4 separate regions of the Homo sapiens genome follow, and all the other regions are linked to region 3. The links come from fine-mapping of genetic effects on gene expression. A gene starts in region 3. Each other region holds a variant in brackets. All regions are shown on one strand. Distances are from middle to middle.

What was found.
Region 1: its variant is fine-mapped to the expression of MVB12B in whole blood (INTERVAL, PIP 0.97).
Region 2: its variant is fine-mapped to the expression of MVB12B in T cells (TOPMed, PIP above 0.99).
Region 4: its variant is fine-mapped to the expression of MVB12B in whole blood (TOPMed, PIP 0.94).

Annotation. Positions count from the first base shown.
Region 1 is chr9:126,429,433-126,434,432 of GRCh38, forward strand. The region is part of intron 7 of MVB12B (multivesicular body subunit 12B); the gene reads left to right. Among named protein-coding and RNA genes, the nearest start is that of NRON, 21 kb to the left of the region's middle. The variant A/G (reference allele first, on the strand shown) is at 3,062.
Region 2 is chr9:126,450,146-126,455,145 of GRCh38, forward strand. The region is part of intron 7 of MVB12B (multivesicular body subunit 12B); the gene reads left to right. Among named protein-coding and RNA genes, the nearest start is that of NRON, 42 kb to the left of the region's middle. RefSeq lists an enhancer at 1,693-2,194. The variant G/A (reference allele first, on the strand shown) is at 2,289.
Region 3 is chr9:126,322,344-126,329,878 of GRCh38, forward strand. MVB12B (multivesicular body subunit 12B) reads left to right here and starts at 4,486. Exons shown (of 10, transcript NM_033446.3): 1 at 4,486-4,667. The coding sequence starts at 4,587. RefSeq lists a silencer at 4,471-4,610 and an enhancer at 5,052-5,703.
Region 4 is chr9:126,348,014-126,353,013 of GRCh38, forward strand. All of the region lies in intron 2 of MVB12B (multivesicular body subunit 12B), which reads left to right. Among named protein-coding and RNA genes, the nearest start is that of MVB12B, 24 kb to the left of the region's middle. The variant A/G (reference allele first, on the strand shown) is at 3,076.

The DNA.
Region 1 (5,000 bases), 110 kb after region 3:
GATGAATTGCCTGCTTTCTTGATTAAACCTTCCGTCACTTAAGAAACAAAAAGCCTGTGTTTAGATGGCAGAGTGGGACATGTCAAAAAAATCTGTCTCCTTTACCTTTGTGCAGATGTTGGGCACAGACTGTAACATGTATTATTAAAATGAATGTGGCATTTACTGTGCATTATTCCTTTCCTGGGAGAAAGGACTGTAAATTATATGCTAATAATAAGCTTTAACCCTTTCGAAATGCAAAAGATTTAAGAGTGCAAATATTCATGTAGGCCTGGCTAATTGGATGTGCTTTTCTACATCCACCACGGTGGCTGTGTCACTGAAGTTAATGAACAGCGTGTGCAGGCAGACACACAGGGCACTTGGGGAACTCCTGCCTCCTGGAGGTTTTCTGCAGTGCGAGTGCCTCCTCCTGGACTTCACAGAGAGATAGACCCTGAGAACCCTGAGCTGGGCTCTGGGTCATCTTACTCCAGATGAAGTCCATGGTCAGGATCAGTTCCCCAGCAGGTCCTCTGCAGCTGAGTGTTAAGCGTGGGACCTCTCTTCGCACACCTGCATTCTCACTTAGAATGCAGGGCCCACAGAAGGCCGTGGGCCCGGGCCTTCTGGGCTGCAGTCTGGCAGGTATCAGGCTTTGGTGCCCAGCCCTTACTTGACTCTCTTCCTTGACCAGGCTTTTCTAGCCTCAGCCCAGTTGCCCAGGTAGCTGACTCATCTCTCCAAAGACCTCCTTGGTCCCCTTGCTCCTCAGATCACACCTTTGTGCCCCTCCACAGCCTGACTGCATTCATTCAGACCTCAGACCTCACCTGCCTGGTGTTGGGGCTGTCAACAACCAGCCCCACCCGTGTCCCACCAGCCTGGGTCGCTCCCTGCGTCCTCCTTGCCTTTGTCTTGCGCTATGCTTGCCCCGCCACTCCAGCAGCTCAGATTTCACCACCTTCTCTTCTCTCTGTCCCTGGCTGTGGCTCTGAAGGCCACTCCCAAGCTGCCTCTCCATCAGGCTTTTCTGATTCCTCTCCCGCTGCTGATGCTCTCTCCTGGTTTACCCCACACTACTCTGTTGGAGAGTTTTCACCTGTGAGCACCTTGAGTGAGAGGGCAGAGACCATATTTAGAGAGAATGGAGGCTCCCCTCTTTTTTTTTTTTTAATTGAGGAGGATGTAGGTAAACAAAGGCAAAGACAAGAGCAAGATTGTTCACTCCATTCACTCAACAGTCACCGAGAGCTGCCCTGTCCTGTGCTCCTGAGGGCAAGCCTGCTGCCCTGATAGGGCATTTGGGGTTGGAAGCATAGGGTCAGAATCTTGGCTCTGACACATACTGGCCATCATACAGTGCTGCTGTGAGCAGTTGCCAAGGTTGTGCACTGCACAAAATATGTGACTAGCATCCTCTAGAACTGTACAAGGACCCTGCACAATGCTACTTTGGGCAATGCTAGTATCCATACCTTTAAAACAATGCAGTAATGCCCGTTTCCTTCCTGGATTGTTGTGAAGATCTAGGGTAGGTAAGAACATTTCATAAACCAGGAAGCAGTGTAGGAATGTCACTTCTCTCCTTATTCAGCTCCCCTACAGGGATGTGATCCAAGAAAGAGCCCAAAGACTTGTTGAGAATTATCACATGGGACACGCTGGCTTGGGCCCAGCACGGTCTTCATCTTCTTAGCCGTGTGCTTCCTTATATAATTTTGATATATAAGATTACTTCTCAGAGTGCTCAGAGGAAATTTCTTCCTCAGTCCAGAGAAACTTGCAATAAAAGGCTCTCTGGCATGGCTCAGCTCAGTACCCCCTGGAAGCCGAGACATTCTGTCACGCATCACCACTTAGAAGTGGGCTATTTTCCGTGGCAAGCAGCCCACGATCCCTTTCTCAAGAAGGTGACAGAATGATGGCTTGGGGGCAGGAAGGAGAGAAGTGCTTGGCAGCGTGAGGCTGCAACTTCTATAAAATCTTTCAATGTACCTTTGGTTTTTTGGAGGAAAAGTGCCTGGGGGGCTGATTTCTGCTCTAGGCTTTCATTTCTGCTTTTCCTGTGCCCCATGGGTAGGAAGAAGTTAAGACTTTTTCCAGTTAAGTCATCATGAAAAATAAAAATATTACTAGGTGACAGATACCTCAGTGCTCTTAAACAGGCGGCCACCTTCCCACTGTGCTTTCCTTCTCTTTTTGGTTTTTAAGCATGGCAGAGCTTAGGCGGCACTGGTTTAATGGGCCACATCCCCTTCTTAACTTGGAAAAGGGTTAAATCTGTGGTCCAGGCAGCCGAGGGCAGCTGGATGAAGCAGGGTGGGAGCCCAAACAGCTGGGTGCAGGCCCTGTCTCTCCCACCGACTAGCCGAGTGAGGCCAGCAGAGATCCTAGCCTTTCTGGATCTAAATTCCACATCTCTCCATATCAGCAATTGCAGTAACAATATCGATCATTTGAACATAGCAATAGGTCGGCTCATTCTTATGGGACGCTTCCTGTGCACCAGGCATTGTCTGGTGTTTAAGGTGGAGGTGGTAATGCCCACCTCCCAGGACTTAAAGCTATGTGGGAAGGAGGCTTGTATATTCTGCAGCTTGAGATGCCCCAGGCCTCGCAGTGGCCAGCAAATGTGCATTTACTGCCCCTGGACTTCACAGACATTCTGTCCAAACACTGCCTTGACTGTAACGTTCCTAAACACATGAACACAGAAAAACCAACTTTCTGATACCTTTCTCCCTGTATGTTTATCTTCTTTGTCTAGTTTTTCAGCAGAAATATGCCCATTTCCCCCTGATAATTCCCTTCCTTAGAGACAGCATAATTGTAGACCTGGCCAGAGAAATGCTGAAAACAAAGGGAACCCCCTTGAGCCCAGCCCTTCACCTGCTCTTAGCACTTCTTCAGAGGTTTACTCTGGAGTGAATGAAGTAGTGTGACCAGACACTCCTGCCTAGAGGCAGCTTATACCAAATTAGCCTTTTGTTTCTTTCTCTACCTCTGTCTCTCTCAAAATAATAAACTCTCAGCTGAGAGGGGAAAATGATGAAGGCAACTTCTTTCATTGAAACAC[A/G]TTTAGTTGTTTTTGCATTATTAAAATGGATTAAATTAATTAAATGAATTTACTGAATAATACCCAGCCTTCCTCTTACTTACCCTGTGTAAGGTATGGCATATGCACTTGCCATGCATTATGTTATTTAATCCCAACAAATCCTTAACCAAGAAAATCTTTTACAGATGGGGAAACTGAGGTCTTGAGAGCTTGTGATCAGCTCACAGTTACACCTGTGGTACGTGGCAGGGCTGAGATTCAGACCCAGGTCTCTTTGACTGCAGACATTGAGCTCGAAACCACGGTACTGAGGATGCTTCTTTAGCACAGGTTGCGTGTGACCGTTTCCCTCCCCTCATCAACTTGAAGGTTGGAAATGGCACACAGACCTGGAGTGAATCGTGCTAGGACTAACTTGGTGTACTGGGCCTCAGCACTGTTTAAACTCTCACGTGGGCCCCTGGATGATCATCTCTGGGACCTCATCAGAGTGAGGCCTTTGACACTTGGCTGATGGCAATGCTGGATCCAAAGGAAAAAAGGAATAGGGGGTGTGGCTCCCATCACTCTTGCTGGGCAAAACAGTGAAGGTGGGGAGCCCAAGGCCTCCTTACTTAAAGTTAAATGACCTTGGGCAAGGAACTGAACCCTTCTGTGCCTTTGTCTCCTTACCTGTAAAATGGGGGTGACGGTGACTTATGGTGAAGCTTAGAACCATGCCTGGGACACAGAAAGTGCTATTGATGTATTGCTGTGATTGTTGGTATCCACAGCCCTGCCCTCCCAGCCCCTTCTCAGATCCTTTCCCAGCCAGGAAAGGGGATACACCAGGTATCCCCTCTGATACACCAGGTATCCCCTTTGATACACCAGGTATCAAAGAACCTCTGCCTTCATAGTGGGGGCTGCACTAGCCTTGCTGCTATAAACCTGTGTCTGGGGGAGCCCTTGGCACTGGGATGTCTCTTCGTGGTGGCCTTCTCTTAGCCTATAGTGATGGTGGGCAGCCCAAGCCCATCGTTTCACTTATTGGGTCTGACCCCCAAGTGTTCTTCTCCCCTACTCTAGCTCTCCTGTTCCGTGAGTCCCTGTACCCTGCCCATGGGCAGGGCTCTAGTTTGAACTGATAGTCACCTGTGTGCTGCCCTGCCTTTCCTGCTTGGAAGCTTCATTCTCTAGATTGGGCCTCCTAAGAGCCAACTTCTCCTAAACCCAAGCCCAAGATTACTGAGCCATTGCAGCCCGTGAGCATTCCTTGTGAGTATTCCCTGTGAGTGCTCCAGAATAACCCTCACCTGTGACCCAGTCATTCCCAGTCCCAGCTTCCACTCCTGCCTGCTTCCAGCCCCCTGAGTCCTCCAGCTGCCAGCATTGCCGAGCTCAAGCATCTCTGAGTTAAGACAGTAGTGGCAGGGCATTGGATTCCGAGTTGGGGTAAACTCTCGATGGCCTGCTAAGGATGGATACATGCGGTGCCAGAACTTGGGGAGAAGTTGAACAGTCGCACAAGCTTTGGTGATGAGATTTATCTTTCAGCTCTTACACAGTATGAGGGTCCCCCTTTTTTGTCAGAATGAATGCATTTAACTGCTGACATTAGGACAAAAGAAATTCCGATCTTTTTTAGAACAACGAAGCCACCTGTCTTGTTTGGACAGAGTACCTGAATCCAACTACTGTCACACAGTTGGTGTTTGTGCCCTGAATACTGAATGGCTTTTTCCCTCTTTTTATTAATGGCCAGTGATAGTCCTAAATGCATTTATGTTTAAAAAAAAAAATCTTCAATCCTGCAGCCTGGAGTTTGGATGGAATATATTTATCACCTATCCCAGAGAATAAGGTTCTTGATTCCCCAGATTTGTCTTACAATTGTCTGTAAGACAATGAATGATACAGAACTCTCCTCCAAGGTTGAGATCCTTTGTTAGAGAGCAGTTTCTTACGCCTGACTTGT
Region 2 (5,000 bases), 130 kb after region 3:
CTGGGAGGGCCCATCAGGTGATGAGTCCTGCTGCTCCCTGCACTGTGCAGAGCAGAGCCCCTGGCCCTCCCTGGGAAGGAAGGTCTGGCTCCCAGGTGGGCGGTGGGCAAGCTCCACTTCCTCTCATTAGTCAGCCTAATGGATGGCCGGCTGAGCTTCCAGATCTGTCCGGGGACTAGTGGACTCTTACCGCCTGCTCCCAGAGCAGCCTGGGAAGCTAGCCCCCATTGGGGTGACACAGATGGCAAGCCCAAATGACAAAGTAAACTCCAATATGTCTTGGAGACATTGTCAGCCTGCAGCTTATTTGTCATGTCACAGCAGCCTTGTGGACCAGGGATGTACTCCCTCCCCGGCCCTGCTCCATCCCCATGTGAGGATTATTTACAGGAAACTGCATTTGATAGGGCTGGTGGGGAGGGCATAGAGATGGAGGGGTGCCAGAACAGATGTTGGTCATTTTCTCACGTTTGGGAAATTAATAACACTCACTTACCTAGCATTTATAGAGTGCTTCACCCAAACTCTCTTCAAGTCTCATAGCAACCCAAAGAGGTGTCGATATAATTAATCCCAGTTAATAGATGCAGAAACCAAGGCATAGAGAGCTCAGTCAACTTGCCCAATCACACAGCTAATGAGAGCTGGGATTCCGGCTCAGGCTGGTGCAGCGGAGGCTGAAAGGGCACTTGCTGCCTGCTCAGGGCTGGGTTTTGGGAGGCAGATCAAGCAGGAGGAATGACACCCTGTATCCCAGGGATGTCCTTCAGCCCTGCAGGTGCAGACCAGCTGTGCCACCCAGCCCAAAAGGGGACACATTAAGGGAGGGAAGCGGCACTGTTTGGCCTTTCTCCCATGGTGACTGGGCTCTGCGGTGAGTGGCTGTGTTTGGGGCTGTGCTGGACAGCAAGGTCACGTACTCCACCCTAGGTGGCATCTCTGCATCACCAGAAGAGCAGGGGTCAGAGGAGGAGGAAGAGGCTTGGCAGGCTGAGTATTCCCAGCCTTGCCTTTCACACCACCACTGCCATAGGGAGTCAGGCCCTTCACCATCTGGGCCTCAGCGTCTTTGACTGTAGAAACAAAAATGGAGGCATGAAAAGCCTCATTCAAGAATTGCAGTGAAGATGAAATGAAATAAAGCTTGCAAAATGGCCCTGCCCACGGTAGGTGCTCACCACTGTAGAGAATGGCTGGGAAGCAGTGCAGAGGGGACTCTCTCAAAGGCCTAGGCCTTTTGCTGCACCTCCAGGTGGAGGAGGGTGTCAGGGACAGGTCAGGGGTACTTAGTAGAGGGTCTCGAGCAAATGATCCCAAGAGCTGCAGCCCATCCAGGCTCTGAGCAGGAACCCTGGAGACCAGAGACAGCAAGGCTCTGTGAGAACTGGATTCAAGCCCAGGGGAATGGTCAAGGCTGCATCTCCCTATCCCCAGCTCCCAAAGCAGTAGGAGTTCAAACCCACCGGGACAGGGGGGCCAAAAAGCTGGACAGAGGGATGAGGCACTGCAGGAACTCCGTGGTGGGACACGACCCTCCCACTACCTTCCAGAAGCAGGAAGAGAGGAGGCACAAGGGTCCTGGGTGGGTGCCCGGGACTCATGTCATCTGGAGGGGGTTTATTTATCTTTCTGATTTAGCTTTAAAGATGCCCCTGAACCCACAGCCTCTGGTCACAGGTAAGCAATGAAAAGCCAGGTGGAATATGAAGAGCAGATTAGGTTAGCCGTGTGACTGATCCCAAGCTGTTTGCCGAGTCTCTGTGTAAATTTCATGCAGGTTGTCTGATTGAGGACACCTGGAATGCCGCGGGCTTGGTGGTTATGAAAGTCCCACTGTTTCATTCCTTAGCCCCGCTCACCAGTTATGTGCAAGTTGAACCGTACCATCAACCCCATTCCCAGCAGCTCCTGTGCATGTCGGAGGCAGGGGATCCTTGTGTCAGGCACCAGCAGATGCACCTACTTTTTCCCTAGGAGATGAAAAAAGGAAGAATGTGAGTCCGTGCCTTCAGCTCATGCGTGTGCTCACGTGCAGGCACGCGCAACCAGGGCTCCCAGGGAGAATGTGCATTTTAAACAATAGACCCAGCCTAATTCCTGGTGTTCACGTGGAGGCCATTCAGCCAGCCCTGAGCCCCAACTACTTGCTGGTCATTCTACTTGAATCTGGGACACAAAAGGTAAAGAAGACATGGCCCTGCCTTGGAGCCTGGTAGGCTTTCCCTCCTCAGCTCGGACCAGCACTGGGGACTCAGCTCCAGACGTGTGCAGACCCTGCGGGCCCACGG[G/A]GTTGCCTGGGAGCTGGGGAAATGTGTTCCCTGTTAGAGCGCTGTCCATTTGGTGATTTGGGGGCAGCCGGTGCAACACATTCAGCAGGGCCTCAGGTCGTTTGGCCAGACTGGAAATTGGTTCTATCCCAAATGTTGCTGGAAATAACAAGGCAGCTGTTCAGCCTCTCTGTTCTCAGTTAGTAAGTGAGAAAAGTGTGTGAACCCGGCAGAGGAAAGAAAGAGTTGTCAGAGCCCATTTCCCCCATGCCTTTGATCTTGCTGACCTGGATGTTTGGGTGTTGGGGGTGGGGGTGATTTGGGAGTTTGGGTGAGTTTTTTGGCTGAAGTAATTGGGATGTCTTAGGAAGCAGGGAAGGAAGGGAAGTTCAAGGGTAATTGCTAACTGATGCCAGAAAGAAAAAATAAATGAAATGCTTAGGCACTTCATGGCCCTTTATTTTCCAGCCATTTCTGCAAATTGCAGTCTAGTTCTTTCTCAGAAATAAGTGACCTGCTAATACAGGGTGGGGAATAGTGGCTGTAGGACAATGAGGTTTAATTTTTAAAAGCTCTGGACTCAAGTCCCAGCTCTGCCCCCGAGACAAGCCCCTCACCTTCTTTGAGCTTCAAGTCAGTCTTCTATCAAGAGGGGCTGAAAATGCCTGCCTCCCGGGATTGTGGTAAAGACTAATTAAGAGAAGACTTGCTGAAAGTGCTTTGTCAGCTGTGAAATATGTGAGAAAGATAAAATCCCTATTTCTTCAAGTTCAGCGGGTTTTTAGTGAGCATCTATTTTTGCCAGAAAACCCCACAGACGTGCCACCTCCCCGTGAGCATCCCCACCCACCCCAGTGCATTGTCAAGGACACATGAACTTGTCAACTGGGTGAGCAAGCAGGGGAGGGGTGAAAGGTCCAGCTGCAAGCAGGGAAGCAGCTGAGCACCCGGAGCAGACCAGGGCCTGGCTGGGCAGAAGGGACTCCCAGAGCTCAGGAGTGTTGCTGTTTGCCCCTTCTCCCTTCTCAAGTATGGAGTTTTGTTTTCATACCTGAGGTTGGAGGTCCTAGTGACTTCTTTCTGCCTGTGTGGGCTGTAGAGGAATCCGTTGCCAACAGCAGTGGCCTGTGTATCACCGGCTGCTTCCTGGAAGAGGTGTTCATTACACAGGCTCAGCCTCTGCTTGCCCATGAGGCTCTTGCGGTTTCTTTCTTCTCACTATGCCCCTTCTCACATGTGCATAACTCGTACATGGACACAATCTCACATGCGTTACGTGGCACATGCATACACTCACGTGTGGCACACTCTCACGTGTACATACATACCGTGTGCATGGTCTTGCATGTGACACACAGCCTCACATGCATATGTGCACACATGACACGTGTGCATGCTCACATGTGTGCACACATGACATATACACAGGTGGCCTCCCCTCCTCTCTGGATCATCAAGGATACCATCCAGATTACCTTCCAGGGCTGGGACAAGGGCTCACCAGGCCCCAACAGGGCAAAAGACAATGAGAGAGGCAAGATGGAAGTCTGGTGTCCCATCAGGGAAAGTCTAAGTGAGAAACAGACGCGGTAAAGCAGAGAGCACCGGGAGACAGGAGAGGCATGGACCTCAGAGTCAGTGCCACCACCACCTGCTAGCACCTCCCTTTGGTCCCTTCAGCATTTTAAAACCTGCTTTCTGTACTGAGAAATAGGCTTTCTTCTTTTATTTTCAAACTTCAAAGATCAGTTTTGAAATAAAGTTTTTTCTGATGGAATTCCAAAGGTTTTACACATGTGTGAAAGGAGAAGTTTGGCTGTTAAAATGTGTTCACCCTGCCCCTTGCTGCCCTGACCCACCAGGGTCCCACCGTGCCTCCACTTTGTTCTCCTAAATGCTGCACCAGCTCACAACCACCAATAGTGTGTTGTTCCAGCCTCTTTCCTTCATCCCCCTAATTCATTTGTGTTCAGCTAGAGCCTAGTGGGGCAGAATTGATTTTTTTGTTAATGGGAAGAAATGTTTCCTGTGTAGGCATTGTTTACCACTCTGCAGCTAATCCCATTGAGCCTCGGGCTCAGTAAGCGGGACACCCAGGTGGCCTGGGGCTGGGCGAGTAGAAAGGTGGCCCCTGGTCTTAGCCAAAGGAGTGCCCTATTCAAGCATCAGGATACATTTGCAGTGGCCAGGGGTATGGACCTTGCATTTTTTAACCCCTGCATGGCTTTAGCCCCATAAAGACCCAACTAAATAAGTGAGATGGAAGTGAATGTTTTCCTCTTCTTTTTCATTTTACTTTTGTTAAGCACTGCATAATGTGCATGCCACGTAATACAGTGAATAGCCTTCTGGTAGGGGTCGATGACCATAATTGAGTTTTTTTTTTTTTAACCAGCCAGGAAAATGCTTCCTTAATCAATGTTCTTTAAATGCTTTGACACATGGTAACAACACACCACAGAGATGCACGTGCCGCTCTCCACCAGACTCCACTGATAGGAATACTGGGCAGCCCTTTCTTCCCTTCCCTCCTGTGAGCCTGTGGGTGCGCAGGGCAGCCACTCCGGGGATGAGCGAGCATGCACCATGATGGCGATTCCAGGAAGGATCTTGAACCACGTCCTGGCAGGGCTACCTGGGCCAAAACCCTATTTCTAGGCCCCTTAAAGGTGAGCGGGCTTCAGCTCTCTCCCCAGTAAGACCCACAGCTCCCAGTAAGACCCTGCGAGCTGG
Region 3 (7,535 bases):
TCACTATAGCCTCAAATTCCTGGGCTCAAGTGATCCTCCTGCCTCAGCTTCCCAAGTAACTAGGACTACAGGTTCACACCACCATGTCTGGCTAATTTATTATTTTTTGTGGAGATGGAGTCTCACTATGTTTATTGATCTTGAACTCCTGGCCTCAAGCGATCTTCCTGCTTCAGCATTCTCCAAATGCTGGGATTATAGGCATGAGCCGCCATACCTGGCCTATTATTATTTGTTAATGATTGCTCTGGTTGCTACTTTCCATTGTTTGGGTAGGGCAAAGCCAGGAGACCAGTAAGGAAATTACTAGAGTGGTCTAGGCCAGAAAATATGGTTTGGAGTAGGGTGTATGAAATATACAAATTTGTATGCCTTATTTGTATACCTATATACAAATAGCTCAATAGATTAAAATGGATATTCCTATTATATACAATAGATGTATAATATACAATGGATATACCTATTTTTATAGGAATAGTTATTTAAAAATATACGCATTCTCAGCAAACTAACACAGGAACAGAAAACCAAGCACCACATGTTCTCACTCATAAGTGGGAGTTGAACAATGAGAACACATGGACACAGGGAGGGGAACATCACACACTGGGGCCTGTTGGGGTGTGGGAGGTAAGGGGAGGGAGAGCATTAGGATAAATGACTAACGCAAGCGGAGCTTAAAGCCTAGAGGACGGGTTGATGTGTGCCATGAACCACCATGGCACATGTATACCTGTGTAGCAAGCCTTCATGTTATGCACATGTATCCCAGAACTTAAAGTAAAAAAAAAACTATATCTACATCTATATCTATATCTATACACACAAATAGATCAATGGATAAAAACAAAGCATTTATAAACGGAACTTAATATATGACAAAAGTGTATATTCTTACACTAGTGGCCCATAGTTTCTTCTGAAGTTTTACATTATATTGTAATATTTGTTAGAGCAATATTTTCTCATTATTCTTCCATTTCAAAAATTTCATGGGTATTTCCTCATACTTATTTATCAAGATAAGTTTCTTGTTAGTTTTTTTTTGTTGTTGTTTGTTTGTTTGTTTCTGAGATAAGATCTTGCTCTGTTGCCTAGGCTGGAGTGCAGTGGCGTGATTATAGCCTACTGTAGCCTCAAATTCCTGGGTTCCAGCAATCCTCCCACCACAGCCTCCCAAGTAGCTGGGACCACAGGCACACACCACCATACCTGGCTCATTTAAAAAATCTTTTTAGAGACAGGGTCTCACTATGTTGCCCAGTCTAGTCGCAAACTCCTGGCCCCAAACAATCCTCCCACCTTGGCCTCCCAAAGTACTGGGATTACCAGCATGAGCCAACACACTCACGCCAATCAAGGTAAATTTTAAAATAATTTCATCATGTTCCATCTCACCTCACCCCTCAGATCATAGTGGTTTCTTGATCTGAATTTTACTAAATTTATAAAGTGAGTTGGGGAGACACAGCATCTTTGCACTGTTGAGACTTCCTGCCCAGGGATTTGTTATATTTTTCCGACTATTAAGATCTTCTTTTATGTCCCTCAGTCAGGTTTGTAGTTTTCTTTCCATGGACCTTCACATTTCTTGTTAAGCTTATGCCTAGTATATGCCTTATAGTATTCATTGCTAATGTGAATATGCTTTTTTTCCATCATACTTCCTAAATGGAAATAACTGGTATTTAGTGTTGTATTTGGAGGTCTCTGTAAGTAATACCTCCCTCCCTATTCTAAGTTTGGAACAAACTGGGGCATAGACACAGGAAAGAGACATAAGACAAAAATACTACCTTAATTTTTAATGAAGCTGACTGGAAAAAGTAGCTTTTGCTCTGTAGCTAAGTGGGCTTGCTATATTTCTCCCTGAATTGAGTAGATTTATTTGTGTAGTGGCGGGTGGTGCAGGAGAATAGTATCACTCTGTCCCTGAAACAGGTTCACTTAACCCACAGTGAGAGCGCATGGAAATATTTGCTCTCTGCAGTCAGCCAAATCCAAAAAGAGAACTCAGAAGCATCTATTCTTGTCCACTTTTTCCAAACTCACTCATCTTCCCTTAGAGTGGAGAGAGGCCAGAAGTCTTATTCTAATGGAAGTCCCTCTATATGGAAAAGAAGGCTTCTCCCTTCAATACCATAAGACAGGGTAAGGAAGAAAAAAAAGAATAATAATAATAATAATAATAATAATAATAAGAAGAAGAAGAAGAAGAAGAAGAAGGAAGGAGAAGGCTTCTCCCTTAACATTTAGGAAAACCATTGATTTTGGTGTTTATCTTATAACTGACCACCTTACCAAAGTCTCTATGATTTTTAGTTGATTTTTTTTATTTTTACTTTTTGGGAAACACTTAAATCATAAGCAAATAATGACAATTTTATCTCTTCCCTTCTAATATTTATATTTCTTATTTATTTTTCTTATCTTATTGCATTGGCTTTATTCTATAGCCATTATAGCAGGCATCCTTTTGACTGACTTACATGAGAATACCTTTAGTGTTTCACCATTAAATATGTTTGTTGATGGCTTCTGATAAACTTTGTCATGTTAAAAGTTTAAACTTTCTTCCTATAATAGTTTACTAAGAGTTTTTAGAAATTTATGGGTCATTAGTTTTGAAGTTTATAAAATACTTTTAAAGCATCTATCCCATTGATAATATCCTGTAATTTGTTTTCCTTTAACAATGCAATGCATTTACAAATTCCCTAATGTTGGATTTTTCTTGCGCCTCTGGAATAAATCTTGCTTGATCATGGTGGGTTTTCAGTTGCTTTAATAGTAAACTGGATTCAAATGGCTAAAATTGTATTTAATAGTTTTACGACTATTATATACTTAAATATATAGTGCAGATTCACATATTGAGGATTTATCAGTGAGCTTTAGAAGGTGGTCCTGGCTCAGATGAGTTTGGGAAATGCCAGGTTAAACAAACCAAACAGGTTTCTTTACTCCTGGACTTCACAGAGGCCTTCCTTAATATACGAATACTTATCGTGATTCTCCAAAAGGTACACTATAAACGGCATGCAGCACTTTCTCAAGTTGCCCACAGAAGCCCATTTTCAAAAAATAAATATTAAATTCTCTGGGGACTCGTGTTCTAGGTTAGTCATCTGCAGTTCTTTTTGGTATTGTCTGTTGGATTTTGGTATCAGGGTTATGCTAAACTTGGGAAATGAAATAAAAATTTTTGTTTCTTTTGTTTATTTTTTCCTGTGTAACAGTTTAAGTAACATAGGGATGATCTGTGCCCTGATGGGAGGATAAGGCTTGCTGTAAAGCCATCTGAACCCATGGCATTTCTGAGTAGTGAAGACACTGGGAATGCACACGTGCATGGCTTCCCTACAGGATGTTTCCCCCGACAGCCCATTCTGCTTGGCACCCTTCTCTTTAGGATCAAACAGCTATTATGGAAAAGCCTAGAATGTGTGAAAATGAGACTCAATGCATTAGCAAATCAATGCTGATCACTCCTGCATGGTCCTCAAGTCCTAACGAATGCTCCAGCCTCCTGGCAGGAAACCTTTCAAATCTTGCACACGCTGGCCTCTGCCTGGGGTGCCTGGCTGGGCGGTGTGGGGGGCATGGTTGGTTAAGGCGCAGAGTCCGCCTTTCCTACCAGCCACTCTAGCTGAGGGTCAAGCTCTGGACCCTCCCCCAACCATCCAGCTCCATTTTATCCTTGGCTTATGCCTTCCCCAAGTACTGCAGGGTAGGACTCCTGCTAAAAACTTCTTCTAGATGCTTGCCTGAGGCTGGCCCCATAAACCTGATTCTAGGCTTCTGGGGATAAATCATCTAACTAATATAAGAGAATTGCTAGGCAATTGGGGTTAGTTTGAGACGACTGGCTGAGCTCACCTTAGGTGAGCTGGGGGGTGGGGGAAGATGAGCTGAAGGATTCTAGGGTTCAGTGAAGCCTAGAATGGCTGGGTGGGCGGAGAGTCCTTAGAAGGGTCCAACTTCTAGCCTGAGGGCCTGGGGGCTTCCAGGGATCTGCAGCCGAGCGGAAGACCGGTCTTGCGTACAGCGAGGCCTACGAGAGCTAAGTGGGCTGAGGGTCCCTGGAAAAGACCAGCCTGGGGGCGGGGACCATCGATGCCCCAGGCTCTAGAGGCCGTGGGCTCCCGGGGGCCTGAGGCTGGACTGGGGTCGCCGGCGGGCTCGGGGAGGCCCGGGTGGGCGCACCGGGGCCCTGCCTGCGGCTGACGGGCTGGGTCGAGGGGGAGGCTGGGGAGGCGGGGTGCCGGCCGGGGCGGCGGCGCGGGCTCGGGACGCCAGGGCTCCCTCTCCCTCCTCCCGCCCGAGCCAGCCTCGGGCGCCGGGCGCCTCCCCCGATCCTGAACCAGCGCCAGCGCCGGGAGGCCCGGAGCCCGGCCCGCCGCCGCGGCCCGCGGAGGGAGCCGCCGCCGCCACTGCCGTTGTCGCCGCCGCCGCCAGGCCGCGCCCCGCCCCTCCGCCGCCGCCGCCGCCGCCGCCGCTCTCGGTGAGGCTCGCGCTCGAGCTGCGGCGCCGGCTCCTGCCGCCTGGGCCCCGGGCCCGGCCCCTCCCGCGCCGCCCGGGCGATGAGAAGCTGCTTCTGCGTGAGACGGAGCCGGGACCCGCCGCCGCCGCAGCCACCGCCGCCGCCGCCCCAGCGGGGAACAGTTAAGTGAGGCCCGGGCGCCGCGGAGGCTCGGCGGAGCCGGCCCTGCAGCCGGGAGGGCGGGCGGGCGGGCGCGGGCCCCCGGCCGAGGGGCGGGCGGACGGGAGGAGCCGGGCCGCGCCGAGGCCTGCGGGCTCCGTGCCCGGCCCGCGGCGGGGACAGGCCCGGGCGGCCTTTGCAGAGCCCCGAGCGCGCCGCGGCTGCCGGTGCCCGGGCTCGGCCTGGCGGCGAGAGGCGGGAGAAGCTGGGGGACCCGAGTGCCAGCAGCGCCCCCAAGGCCCGGGCAGGTGAGGGGCGCCGAGAGCCACCTCTGCCCGCGTGAGAGGGAGGCGGCCCACCTGGGCACAGACTGGGAACAGTCAATCGTTTGACCGGCCTGGCCTGGGGTCCTGCTCTCTCTGGTCACGTGGGTGCAGACCAACGTGCACCTGCCCCAGGAGCATCACTGCCTCTGTGACCTGGGCACAGCAGAGAGGACACCTAAACCCTCAGGCACCTGTCTGGAAGGTGACATGCCCAGCCTGGGTACCCGAGACCCAGAGCACCCATCCAGGAACATGGTGGGCACGTCGAGCACCCTACAGTGACTCCAACACCAGCGAGACGGGAGGAGCAGGGGCTGGGACAAGAGCTGAGGCATGGCACCAGGGGACATCACATCCTCAGAGGCAGGCACCAGGGAACGGGGTAGACCCAAGAGCATCTTTTGTCCTCTTTGTTACCAACACACAACTGTTCTAAATCAGCAGCCCTTCTCACCATGAAAGATGAGACTCTTCTGTTCCCTGCCCCTCAACACCTCTTGCACAAGGCACTGAGGAAGACCACAGGAGGGCAAAAGGCAAATGGTGGTTGCCCCTTCCCTGCTTCCTGCCCCCACCCAAGAACCAGAGCCCACTCCGATTGCTGCCACAAAAGCAGACAGCAGACCAGCTCCTCTTAGGGGCCTTTGTCTCTCGTGGTTCCTTCTCAGTATAATCTCATTGTACATTTCTCGACAGCTGGCTGGATCTCATCTCGTTTTAACAGGGCTGGGAAATCTTATCAGCGGCACCAGGAAAGCTTAGAGAGTTAAAAAATAAGCTCTGTGAAGCCTTGACTAACTGAAAAACTCAATGTGCTAGGATGTTTAGTTACAGTAGATGGTGACACCTTTCTTGCTTGTTAGAAATCATGTGGGGTCCTTGGAGATACTGTACCATGCTCAGAATCTTTAAATAGGGCCTCAGAGAGATGAGGCTTCTGCTTGGGACCCGGGCTCCAAGCCCCATGGGAAGCAGTTGACGTGGCGATTACTGGTTCATTTAAACCTAAACTTACCTTCTGTAATCCATATTTTTCATTCCTTCCTTCTAGGCTTTAGGTCACACTCCTAATTTAGGTTCAAGGCATTTTTCTTGCCCTGTCTCCATCCTGCTAGGGACCTTTTACCACTTCCAACTGGAATGTTGTGCCATGGTTATGTGCAGGGAGTTTAGAATTAGCCCTCAGCTTAAGTCTTGGCTTTCCTACTTACTTTGTGCCCTTGGACAAATTATTGAACTTTTCTGAGTTTCAGTTTCCTCATCTGTAGAGTGAAACTAATGATAGTATTCATCTCATGGGATTATGGCGTGATGTAAATGAAATTTTGCAAGAAAAGTCTAGCTCAGTGCCTGCTACATGGCAAGAAGTCAGTAAACGGTAGGGGTCATTATGAGAGGTTTGTTAACGGATGAATGAGAGGAGTAGCTTATTTATTTATTTTTAGAGTTTCTTTCTGTCTGCTTTTTTTTTGGTTTTTGTTTGTTTTTGAGACAGGGTCTCACTGTCACTCAGGCTGGAGTGCAGTGGTACCATCATGGCTCACTGCAGCCTTGAACTCCTGGACTCAAGCGATTCTCCCACCTCAGCCTCCCAAGTATAGGTGCCTGCCACCACGCTCGGCTGTTTTTTTAAATTATTATTATTTTTAGTAGAGTTGGGGTCTTGCTATGTTGCCCAAGCTGGTCTTGAACACCAGAGCTTAAGTAATCCTCCCACCTTGGCCTCCCAAATTCCTGGGATTACAGGCATGAGCCACCACGCCTGGCCTATTATTTAGTCTTCAACGGGACAACCAGGAAGTGATGGTATAGTAGAAAGAACACTGGACTTGGATTTAGGAGCTTGAGTTTGACTCTCAGGCTACCTCCTGGACCCCAGGTGACCCTAGGGGAGTCACAGAACCTTTCTGAATCCCCATTTCTGTAATGTAAAAGTGTCTTAAGAACAAAGCCTACCCCATAAAGCTAATCAGTCAAGAAGAGCTGAAGGAGCTAATGTATGTGACTGCACTTGGCACTGCAGGAGGTGGCGGTCCTCATGAAATTTAAGTGTGCGATTCAGCATCCAGCAGCAGATCATGGTGTTTTTTTCAGGTCCGATGTTTATACAGTTTGTTGCGGGGAGAGCATTAAGAAAAAGAATACAAGAATATCCTGTGTTTGTACATGTTACAGAACCACGCCACCATGTGAGCACACTGCTGGATGCCCTCTCAGGGCCTTGGAAGGGGTAAGGGAGAAGTGTAGTCTCTATCCATTTCATGGAGGATCTTCTCCTGGGGGGATCAGAATCCAAATGGCATAGGCCCCTCTGTCTGAGTTTGCTGGAAGTGCTCCATACTCAAAGGGAGACATCCTTGCCACACTGCAAAATAATGATGGTGCTGGAGTCAAGCATGGGAAAAGTCGAAGGTGCTATTATGATGATGAAGATAACAAATGACTACATGGCTGGATGTGGTTAGGCTGAGCACACTGTGTTGCAGAGCCTCCTTTGCAGGTTGGGTTGTGGAGGGGAGGCCTGGGTTTCTTGAATAGACTCCTTCTCCCCAGGCTGCTCTGGC
Region 4 (5,000 bases), 24 kb after region 3:
CAGCTTGTTCTTGCTGTCCCAGCTTCCTGAGCACAGGGCTTTGCTATCGTGGGGCTACTAACTGCAGAAATAACCACAGACTTTGAGTCCTGCCACACAGATTGGTTTATTTTCAAAACCAGAGCTTGTTTTGATAAAAGGCACCAGGTGTTCCTCCTTTTTGTTTTGTTAGAAAATACATTAAGCTGAGATTTACTGAAATGCGGAAAGTGGTTTTTGTAACTAGCCCTGGGCCTTTGTTCCCTGTGGCCTGGATTAGCAAACCTCTTTTAAGGTCCTTCCCTCCACATTCCCCTTTGTCCTGCCGCACCCTGGCCCCAAGGGAGCAGAGCTGTGGTCTGAGAGAATGCACGTGGCACACTTAGCACAGTGCTGGCATCCACGAGGTGTGCAGGAGGCAAACATCAGCTATCGTTAGGTGATCCTCTTAGAAATAGTGGCTTAAAGCACCTGGTTGCAGAGGAGCTGGTCTTGTTTTCTTCTAGGCTTCCCTTCCCTGCTAACCATGAATTTTTCGTTTTGACCCAAAGTTCCCGCTAATGACTTGTTCCGTAGTTGATTCATTTGGAAAGTGGTAGGGAACAGGCAGTGTTCTGGTACTTCCTTCTGTTTGCTAAAACTTCCTAATTCCCTATTTAAAAAGCCTTCTAATAATGAAACGTCAATTAATTGGATGGTTGAAAAAAGACGAGGCGCTTGCTTTAATTTTTCTTTCTTTTTTTTCAGTTAAACTTTTTATTTTGAGACAATGGTAGACTCACATGCAGTTGTAGGAAGTACTACAGAGAGATCCTGTTTACCCCCCACCAATGGTAAAGTCTTGCAGACTAGTACAATGTTACAACCAGGATACTGACATTAATACAGTACATTAATACAGAACATTTCTGTTTTAAAACGTGCCCAGGTTTTTGTTTTTATTCATATATGATGTGGCCAATAAATGAGGAGAGGATTGCCACTGGAAAGATTATTACTCGCAGTTCCCAAGAGGAGCAGACAGGCCACACCCTGTAGGGCCACCTGGGGAAGCACAGGTGGGGAAACATAGGTGGGGAAGCGTGGGGTGTGTCAGGAAGCACAGAGAGCCAGGGAGAAACGAGCCAGGAAGGGCAGTGTCAAGCAGGGTGAGCACAGTTAGGATTGATTAAGTTTGAATAATTTTGGCAGGTCCTGGGGTACATGGGTGAGTCCCTCATTGTCAGGTACCTGGCCCTGGGGTGATTTAGGGCAGGGGAATCGTGTCCTGGACTGCAAGAGCCCGTGAAAGCAGGCAGATGGAGATAAGAACTCAGTATTGGTTGGTTTGCATATCCAAGGCATGCACACAAGCAAGTCATTCACCTAGGAGGGGCAGTCCCTCCCTGCTTCTGCAAGACCTCAGGATATCAAAGCCTCATAAAATATAGAAAAAACCTGCCAAAATACAATTTCTATCACCATAAGGATCTTTCATGTTGTCGTTTTATAGCTACACTCACTTCCCTTATACTACCACCTTCTCCTTAACCCTTGATAGCCACTAATCTGTTCTCCATTTCTATAATTCTGGCATTTGAAGAATCTTATATAAACGGAATTATAGTATGTCACCTTTTGGAATTGGCTTTTAAAAAAAACTCAGCATAATTCTCCTGAGATTCATGCAGAGAGTCTATTGTGTGGGTTAATAGTTTATTTCTTTTTACTGATAAATAGTATTCCATGGTTTGGATATCCCACAATTTGTTTAACCATTTACCCATTGAAGGACATCTTGGTTGTTTTCATTCTGGAGCCATTATGAATAAAGTTGCTATAAATACTCAGGTGAAGGCTTTCATGTGGCTGTGTTTTTATTCCTCTGGGATAAATATCCAGGAATGCATTTGCTGGGTCACATGGTAGTTGCATGTTTAGTTTTTAAATAAAATGTTAAACTACTTTTTGGTGTAGCTGTAATGAATATATGAGGATCCAGTTTCTCGACATCTTTTCCAGCATTTGTTATCGTCAGTATTTTTTTGTTTTAGCCATTCTGACACGTGCATAGTGATAATTCATTTGGTTTCACACTGTATTTCCCTAGTGGTTAATGAATGATGTTGAACATCTTTTCATGTGCTTATTTGCCATCTGTATGTCTTCCATGAAAATTTCTTCATGCCCTTTACTCATTTTCTCATTGGATTGTTTGTTTTTTTTACTGTTGAGTTTTAAGAGCTCTTTGTGTATTCTAGCTATGAGTCCTTTGTTGGATATGTGGTTTCCAAATATTTCTCCTAGTCTTTACCTGCCTTTTCATCTTAACAGGGCCTTTCACAGAGCAAATGTTTTTAATTTTGATGAAGTCCAATTTATTACTTTTTCTATCTGTGAATCATGTTTTGGTGTCAAGTCTGAGAACTCTCTGCCTAGCTCTAGATCCTGAAGATTATCTCCTGTTTTCTCCTACAACTTTTATAGTTTTACATTAACACTTACGTCTGTGATCCATTTTTTCCTTAATTTCTGGAGGCTGGGAAGTCCAAGTTCAAGAGGCACATCTGGTGAGGGCCTTCTTGCTTGGTGAAGATTCAGCAGAGTCCCAAAACAGTGCAGGTCATCTCATGGCGAGGAGACTCAGAGTGCTAACATGCTAGCTCAGATCTCTTCCTCTTTTTATAAAGCCACCAGTTCTGCTCCCATGATAACCAATCAATCCATTAATCCAATGAATGAGCCCTCATGATCCAATCACCTCTTAAAGGCCCCACCTCTCAATACTGCTACAATGGGGATTAAGTATCCACAGGATTTTTTGAGGGGACGTTCAAACTATAGCAGGTAGAATGATTCCTTCTACTTTATTCTCCTTTCCAAAATGATTTTAGCTATTCCAGTTATTTGTCCATATAATCTTAAAATAATCTTGCCTATATCTACAAAAAACTTGTTGGGGTTTTAATGGCAATTGATGTTAAATCTGCATATCAATTTGAGGAGGATTCACATCCCCACTATGTTGAGTATTCCAATTCATGAACATAGTATGTCTCTTCATTTATTAGTTCTTCTTTCATTTCTTTCGCCAGCGTTTTGTAGTTTTCAGCAAAC[A/G]AGCTCTATAATGTTTTGGTAGATTTGAGCCTAAATATTTATTTTTAGATTTTGAGCAATTATAAATGGAATTGTACTTTTAATTTTGATGTTCACATGTTCATTGCTGTTATATAGAAATTCAGTTAATTTTTATAGGTTTATCTTACATCCTGTGACCTTGCTGCACTCACTATTAGTTCTAGGTTTTTGGTTTTGTTTTTTTCTTATGATTCCTTGTGATTTTCCACCTGGACAACAATCTCATCCTTTTTTCTTTCCCATCTGTATGCCTTTTATTTCTTTTTCTTGCCTTATTGCAAAGGATAGAACATCTAGCACTATGTTACCTGTGAGAGAGTAGACCTTCTTGCCTTATTGCTGATCATAGGTGGAAAACATTCAGTCTTTCACTCTTTTTTTTTTTTTTTTTTTTTTTGAGACTGAGTCTTGCTTTGCTGCCTAAACTGGAGTGCAGTGGTGCGATCTCAGCTCACTGCAACCTGCACTTTCTGGGTTCAAGCAGTTCTCCTGCCTCAGCCCCCAAAGTAGCTGCGATTAACAGGCATGTGCCACCATGCCCAGCTAATTTTTGTACTTTTAGTAGAGATGGGGTTTCACCATGTTGGCCAGGCTGTTCTCAAAGTCCTGACCTTGTGATCCACCTGCCTTGGCCTCCCAAAGTGCTGGGATTACAGGCTTGAGCCACCGTGCCTGGCCCCAGTCTTTCACTCTTAAGTATAATATTAGCTGAAGGTGTTTTGGTAGGTACTGTTTATCAAGTTGAGGGAGTTCCTTTCCATTCCTGTTTTTCTGAGAGTTTTTATCATGAATAGGTATGGAATTTTGTCAGATGCCTTTCCTGTATCAATTAATATGATCATGTGATTTTTTTTTTCCTTTAAAGCTTGTTAACATGGTGGATTAAATAGATTGGTTTTTGAATATTAAACCAGCCTTGCATCCCTGGAATAAATTTCACTTGGTCATGGTATATAATTCTTTCTATTTATTGCTGAATTCTCTTTGATAACAGATTGTTAAGAATTTTTTTTGGCTGTTACAGATGTCTGAAAAAGAAAGAAAAAAATGTTGTGTTTGTATTTATGAGGGATATTGATCTGTAGTTTTCTTTTTGTATACTGTCTGTCTGGCTTGGTAATACTAGATTCATAAAATGAATTGGAAAGTGTTCCATCCTCTTCTGTTTTCTGGAAGAGACAGTGTAGAATTAGTATTAATTATTTTTTAGATGTTTAGATGTGGAAGTCTGGGATCCTTACTCTGGCTTTGTTGGCATGGGTGGGTGTGGGGCCACAGTATTTTATGTGGCATTTGGCTGGGGTAGAGCAATTATTGTCTAAACATCTTCCCTCTTGCTAGGCTGCCCCCTGACTAGAGAAAGCAGGCTTCTGTTGTTTTTGTTTGTTTGTTTCTTTGGTTTTTGGTTTGTGTTTACTGCTGTTTCTGGGTTGCTGATTTCTTTAGCTTCAAGTCTGGGATATATGAGGCAGAAAGAAAACCACAGAACTCACCACCATGTTGTTCCCTGGGTCATGAGATCCCTAGCTGGTCAGACGGATTATTTCACCTTTCAGAGTCTTCTGGTGTTTGTTTGGTATAATTTCCAGTTTTTTTAGTTGTACTTACTGGGAAGATTAGGGAAAAGTATATTTACTCCATATTCCTGGAAGTGGAAGTACTGGCTTGCTTTAATTTTATGTTAATTCAGAGTTAGCCAGAGAATCTGTTTATTTCTAAGCCTGTCATAAATCTTTCCAAAACATTTATGTTTCAGCCTTAATATTATATATATAGGCAGGAAGTATGCTATTGTGTGCTTGTAAAATACTTGCTAGTTACTCCTTAAAGTATGGAAGACTCAAAATGCTGCGGAGCCATCTTTCTCAATTTTCGTAGTCCAGATTTATAGTATTAAAAGGCTG